Homo sapiens: one gene and its partner. The protein of the gene in region 2 purifies or fractionates together with the protein of the main gene of each other region. This does not show direct contact. Each region holds a gene or a part of one and is shown on either strand. Other genes may lie near its edges.

The links.
Region 1: the proteins of YIPF3 (region 2) and SLC22A5 purify together in Homo sapiens (co-immunoprecipitation; 4 studies listed by BioGRID and IntAct, with this or other methods). This does not show direct contact.

The regions. Positions count from the first base shown.
Region 1 is NC_000005.10:132,390,210-132,393,709, forward strand, and holds part of SLC22A5 (organic cation/carnitine transporter 2), read left to right. Parts: intron 1-480; coding exon 481-695; intron 696-2,223; coding exon 2,224-2,406; intron 2,407-3,466; coding exon 3,467-3,500. UniProt on the Homo sapiens protein: Sodium-ion dependent, high affinity carnitine transporter. Involved in the active cellular uptake of carnitine. Transports one sodium ion with one molecule of carnitine.
Region 2 is NC_000006.12:43,511,332-43,513,926, forward strand, and holds the end of YIPF3 (protein YIPF3), read right to left. Parts: intron 2,303-2,595; coding exon 2,257-2,302; intron 2,121-2,256; coding exon 2,028-2,120; intron 1,870-2,027; coding exon 1,738-1,869; intron 1,544-1,737; coding exon 1,430-1,543; intron 1,233-1,429; coding exon 1,109-1,232; intron 985-1,108; coding exon 836-984; 3' UTR 501-835; downstream 1-500. UniProt on the Homo sapiens protein: Involved in the maintenance of the Golgi structure. May play a role in hematopoiesis.

The DNA of each region.
Region 1 (3,500 bases), on a different chromosome or scaffold from region 2:
GTAGTGTGTGAGGGTCTCTCTCCAAGTGTTTGACCTAATGTTGTTCCTTTTGTTATCTTATCCCCCAAATCCTATCACACCTCACTTGATGTCTGCCTCCTGACTCATTCTCTAGCTCCTTCTGCAGTTGCTGGATTTGAGGAGGTTCAGCTTAGGATTTTTAAAGCTGAAAGGCAGGTTGGAATTTTTCTTTTCAATGAAGTAAATCTATCTGAATTATACAAGCTTTTTTGCTGGGACACTGTCTATATGGAAGGCTCTGAGAGCGCACTGGCGCAGGGTTTACACTGTACCACTTGGGCTGGGGAAAATTATCTTTTGATCTATGAAGTAAGACGCAGGGTTACAGTTACTGCTGCCTTACTAGTCTCTGCTTAAAGATGGTTTGGAATTTACTGAAATAATTGCATTGTAAAAGTTGTACAGGTTGGGAAAGATGTGGATACTGCTTTTCCAGCTTTCTTCTGCACTCTGTTTCAGGATGACCATATCAGTGGGCTATTTTGGGCTTTCGCTTGATACTCCTAACTTGCATGGGGACATCTTTGTGAACTGCTTCCTTTCAGCGATGGTTGAAGTCCCAGCATATGTGTTGGCCTGGCTGCTGCTGCAATATTTGCCCCGGCGCTATTCCATGGCCACTGCCCTCTTCCTGGGTGGCAGTGTCCTTCTCTTCATGCAGCTGGTACCCCCAGGTAGGGACCATGTGCATCTATGGTTTGGGGTCTTCACTGAGTCTCTTACTGTCTACCAGGCTGTCTCAATTAATAAAGAGAATAAAATCAAGCCCATCACAGCTCCCTTGCTTATATACATTCTTGGCCTAAAAATCAATAGAAAGTGTCTTCTGAGACTAGAACACTTATGGCCTGGGCTTTGAGGGAGTGGGAAAAAGCAGCCATTGGGGCTGTTGGTTAATTTTACTCTGTACCCAAGTTAATGTGCTCATACTGTTTTCCACTGCAGAAGAAGAGGGAAGAAATAGCTATCCCATTCCTTTTTTTCCTGGCCCTGTCTTCTTTATTTATTCAACAAATAGCTATGGCATGCCTACCATGGGCTGGGCACTGTGCTCGGTGATAACGATACACAAGAAAACAAGCCAGGCAGAACCCCAGGCCCTCATGGAACGTACACCCTAGATGAGAAGACAGACAACAAACAAGTAAATAAAATGCTTAATATAGTTCAGACTGTGTTACCTTCTAGGAATACAAATGAAGGACAATGCCGAGTTAGTTTACATAGTCACAGATAGTGTCCCTGAACAGGGGGCAGTTCAGTAGAAATGTACATAAAGTGACAGAAAGCCCTGAAAAAGTCTAGGAGAACATTTTAGGAAGAAGAAATGGCAAAGGCAGCGACCCTGAGCAGGGGATGAGCCTGGCATGTTTGAGGAGGAGGGAGAAGGGGAGGGGCCAGACCACTGAGAGGGCCTCACAGAGCCTTAGCAGGATTTTATTTCTGAAACTATCTTAGTATCCCACAGATGGGTGGGAGGTAGCCATTTCCAATAATTTATAGAACAGTTCATGGGCCCTCATCTCTCCCTCTCCATCACTGTGCCCAGAGACTTCAGTGTACCTGTAGATTTGGGAGCCTCTGATGGTCACTTTTGGGCCCATCAGGCTGAGAACACTGCACGGGAACAGCTCCCCATGGGATGTGGCAGGAGGAGCCCAGAACTGATGTAGAGGCTCACAGCTGAGCTCAGAGTGACCTTCAGGTCACACATAGCTCTCCCATCAGCACAGCACAGAGAGATTAGAAGATCAACTTGAGATTCTGATGGCCTATGATTTTTTTGAGGTCTGAGTGGGAGGAAAGCATGAAATGAGTTAGAACTGAATTCTCCATTCATCTAAACATCATGAGTTAATTCCATAGTGCCTGCAGTGTGAGGTTCTGGGGTGACAGTTAATCCCTGACAGACATGTCTTTAATGACTTATAGACTGGGAAGCAGGTTGATTGGACTATTAAGGAGCTTACTCTGGTGGTCTCCAGGTTGAGGAAAGTGCATGTCCTTATAGCTGCAGGTCCCAGCCTCCTTTCAGCAATCAATTTGGAGGGAAATCTTGGCTATAGCCCCTTCCCCCACAATAGGAAGTGATAGAAACTGACTCCCCAAAAAATTTGGGAAGAAAGTATGTTTGTTTTGCTCTCAATAGCTGCATGCCATGGGTTGGTACCTACTCCTACCCTCTTTCCTTTGCTTCTCCAGACTTGTATTATTTGGCTACAGTCCTGGTGATGGTGGGCAAGTTTGGAGTCACGGCTGCCTTTTCCATGGTCTACGTGTACACAGCCGAGCTGTATCCCACAGTGGTGAGAAACATGGGTGTGGGAGTCAGCTCCACAGCATCCCGCCTGGGCAGCATCCTGTCTCCCTACTTCGTTTACCTTGGTAAGTCCCATGAGCCAAGGGCACACTAGAGCAACGGGATGGAAGTACTAACTGGCTTGAATGTGAGCTGGAGGTTGCGTGTTAACAGGAAAACAAGTTCATACAGTACATGGGCTCCATCCAGTACTGGATCTTTGGCCGGGAAGGGTTCTTGTCCCAGTGCACTGGCCCTCACTTTCAAATGGAAAACAACCTATAGATTACCTAGAAATTGATGAGAATATTAGAGGGTTTGTTTCTGTTTTAGCCATCCCAGGCCTTCCATCAGAGACTACAATTCCTTTATCCTAAGAACCTACAGAGTGGTTTAGGGAGCCAGTGTGCTTAGTTGGAGAAATTTCTTGGAATCAGAGTTTAAAAGGAACATGAGGGGAAAGATGTCCATGCAAGAGGTCTGATGAACGGAAAATTATTATAACCTAGAGCACTATAGAGTGATTTTATCTTGTGTGAAGATCCACCCCATGCCATTTTATGTAGCAGGTCTCCAGTTTTCTCTTCTCAGAATTATGTCTTCATAGCACCTGTGGTTTCCTGCACATCCCTAGCCAGTACCTCTTTAGGGAGGGTGGCACCCACCTGAGAGTACTCAGAGTGCTTTGTGAACATGCTATGTAGATCTCAAAGCAAGCAAAAGCACCCTGCCTAATCTGAAGGCAGATCACATGGGCTGGGACACATCTGCAGAGGTGGAAGAGTTATTTCCATCCCTGGACAAGTACCTCAGGTTCCTTGGAAACCCAACCTTGGTAAATAAGAATAATCAGCATGGCCCAGAAATAGGAATAATCAGCATGGCCCAGCTCTTCTACTGCAACCGCCCCTTTGTACTCCTCCCCTGCATGGTGGAACACTGCTGGGCTCTGGGCATGCCTGTGCCAGCTCTGGGTTCTGAAACCTGTCTAGATGCCAGATTCTAATCTGACTGCTCAGACTGTGAGAGATGTGAGACCAAGAAGGAAAGTGATCCCCTTCCAGAGTCCTGGGAGCATAAAGGGGTAGATGAGAGACCAAGTCTAACTGCAGCCCTGGGCCTGAGGCTCCGTCTGCTTTGCCATAGGTGCCTACGACCGCTTCCTGCCCTACATTCTCAT
Region 2 (2,595 bases):
TAAAGAGGTGGTGGGGGTGGATGGTGCTATGTTAGGAGTGGTGGTTGGTTTTAAGAGGAAAGACAGAAAAACTAAAAGGAGCTGGCCCCAGTACCACCAAGGCAAAGCCAAATTTGGCTTCAATTAAGAGCTCCACAGGAAAATTATCAACACAATGCCCAGGTGCAGAAGATCCTTGTTTTGACACGGGGTTTAAGTCGGGATGTTTTGTTCAATTGTCACTGCTTCCTTGGCTTCCCAAGAGAGCAGCTGAGCCCAGACTCAAGCTGGCTGCAGTGTTCCATCAGGCTTATGGCTTTTGTGCTTGAGGCCTCCCTGCCGCTTCATGGGTCAGGTGTGATATTCAATCACTGCCTTCTATGTAGTCTGGCCTGTCCCACCTTTATCTTGCCTGGGTGAGGATATGAAGAAGGGAACATATGACATTACCACTGTTGACTGAGTAGGAAAGTATATAGGAAGCGGGATGACAGGGAGGACCACTGGATCAGCCGCTGCAGTTCCAGACTTCAATCAACATTTTAATTACCAAGTCTATATTTAGCAAGACAATGTGGGAGAGATAAAGAGGAAGGAAGGGGTAGGTGGGGAGGGGTTCTCAAAGGAGCTGACCCATTTTCTGCATTGGCTGCAGAGCCTTGCAGTCCTGGCCAGGAGTTCTTGGCCTTGTGCCTTTCAGAAGTGCCGACAGGCATCAAGGAGGTACTTACGCAGCTACAGCTCAGTGGCAGCTGCAAACCCCATCTACGAAACATGTCATCAGGACTGTCCTTTAATAGTCTTCCTCCTCTCTGCAGCTGCGGGAAAGAGGACTGGCCAAGAATTTCAGGTGGGGTCAGTGTGACTGCAGGGTCACCGCAACAGCTTTGGCTGTGGCGTTGAGGACGGTGGTGGGAAGCCGAGCAGCAGGGAGCATGGCAGGGATGTCTCTGGGGACCCTCTGGATGGGCGGGATGTTGGGGCCCTCCAGTGTGTCCAGGATCCCTGGAAGGAAGATGGAAGGTGAGCGAGGATCAGATGGGCCCAGCCCACCAGCCATCATATCTAGCTTCTTGCTCTAGGCAGCTGCTTTCCCATTCTCCCCCACCCAGACCTTCCTGCCACTTACCCTCTACCACTTTGTGGTAGGCAAAATGCAGATAGAGCAGGAAGAGCATGTGTAGGGCAGCCAGGGTGCCACAGAGGAGCAGCCGCTGTGTGGGGCCCACGGTCCGAGACACCAACACTGCTACCTAGGACCATGAGAATACAGCTCAAAGGGCCTGGCTCCAAAGTGAGGAGTGGGGACAAGACACCCCCACCCAGGGCAGAACCATCTTTGGGCTCTTCCCTCCCATTTAGGGCTCTTTGTGAGATGGACAGCTCCAGGCTGTCTTCCCCAACTCCCTGGGAGGACAGCCCACCCCTGGAAGCCTCTTGCCCAGCTTACCATGCGCAGTGTGGACAGTCCACCCACCAACAGCCAGAAGAGGTAGAAGAGGGCGTGGAGGTGGATATTATAGGTGATGAACAGGACAATGCAATGCCCAAAGAGGCCATAGCCCTGGGAAGGAGGATGGTGGAGAGGAAAATCATTCAGGTTGGGCTGCTTTCTGGCCCCTCATGGGGACCCTGGGAAACACATGGTCCATTGGCCTACTCCTCCCATTCCAGGCTTTGGGGCCCCAGGACAGATGCCGACCAAGGCCTGGCTACTCTTTTTAACATCACTCTTGCCCACCACACCTGGCTCCTTACCAGCAGTGCCAACATCTGCAGCATGGTGATCTGGGCGTTGCACAGGTAGGCAAGGAAGTAAATGAAGGATGAGACTCCCAGCCAGTAGCCGAAGCAGGTGCCAATGGCTGTGCCCATCAGGGTGCCCTCCCGCTGTGGGGTGAAGGCTCTATTTAGTCCTAGGAGGCCTCTGATCTCAGCCTCACCTAGGGCCTTCCGCAGGGGCTGTTCCTGTCTCACTCCACCATTGTATCCTCAGGCAGCTTTCAACCTAGTGCAGCCACCCCCCCAAAGTTGTCTGTCCTGCTTACGATAATAGTGTCAGACGTCTTCATCCCATGGAGTAGGATAGCAACCAGAGTGAAGACCAGCATGAGAGGTCCATAGAGTTCACCTGCAATTTTCTGTCAATATACCAATTCATTCAGGCTGGAGGGTACAACAGCTCATCTGTTTATGGCTTCCCAGGATTTGCCTGGTGGTCCCACCCTCTGCCCTGGTGCTTCCCCCGGCTCTCCAGACATGCCACCCTCTATTCACCTGGGGGAAGTTGACCATCTTGATAGGGATCATGGACTCCAGGAGCCTGGGAGAGGAGAGGAGAGATTAAAGCAAAGGCAGCACAAGGCCATGAGGTTCTGGAGGGCAAGGCCTGAATTTTATTCATCTCTAACTCCAGGGAATGGGGCCTGGCCTAGAAGACATGTTGGATGACACGGTAGAACAGGGTAGTAAAGACAGATAGGGAATGAGGAAATCATTTCCTTGCCCCTAAAGTTACTTCCAGGAAGGACAACCCTCTGAAACTTAGCTGACTGAAACAGCAGCTATATGGAGAACTCAGCCCTACTGGGCCTTGAAGGAGGGCCCGACCATGTA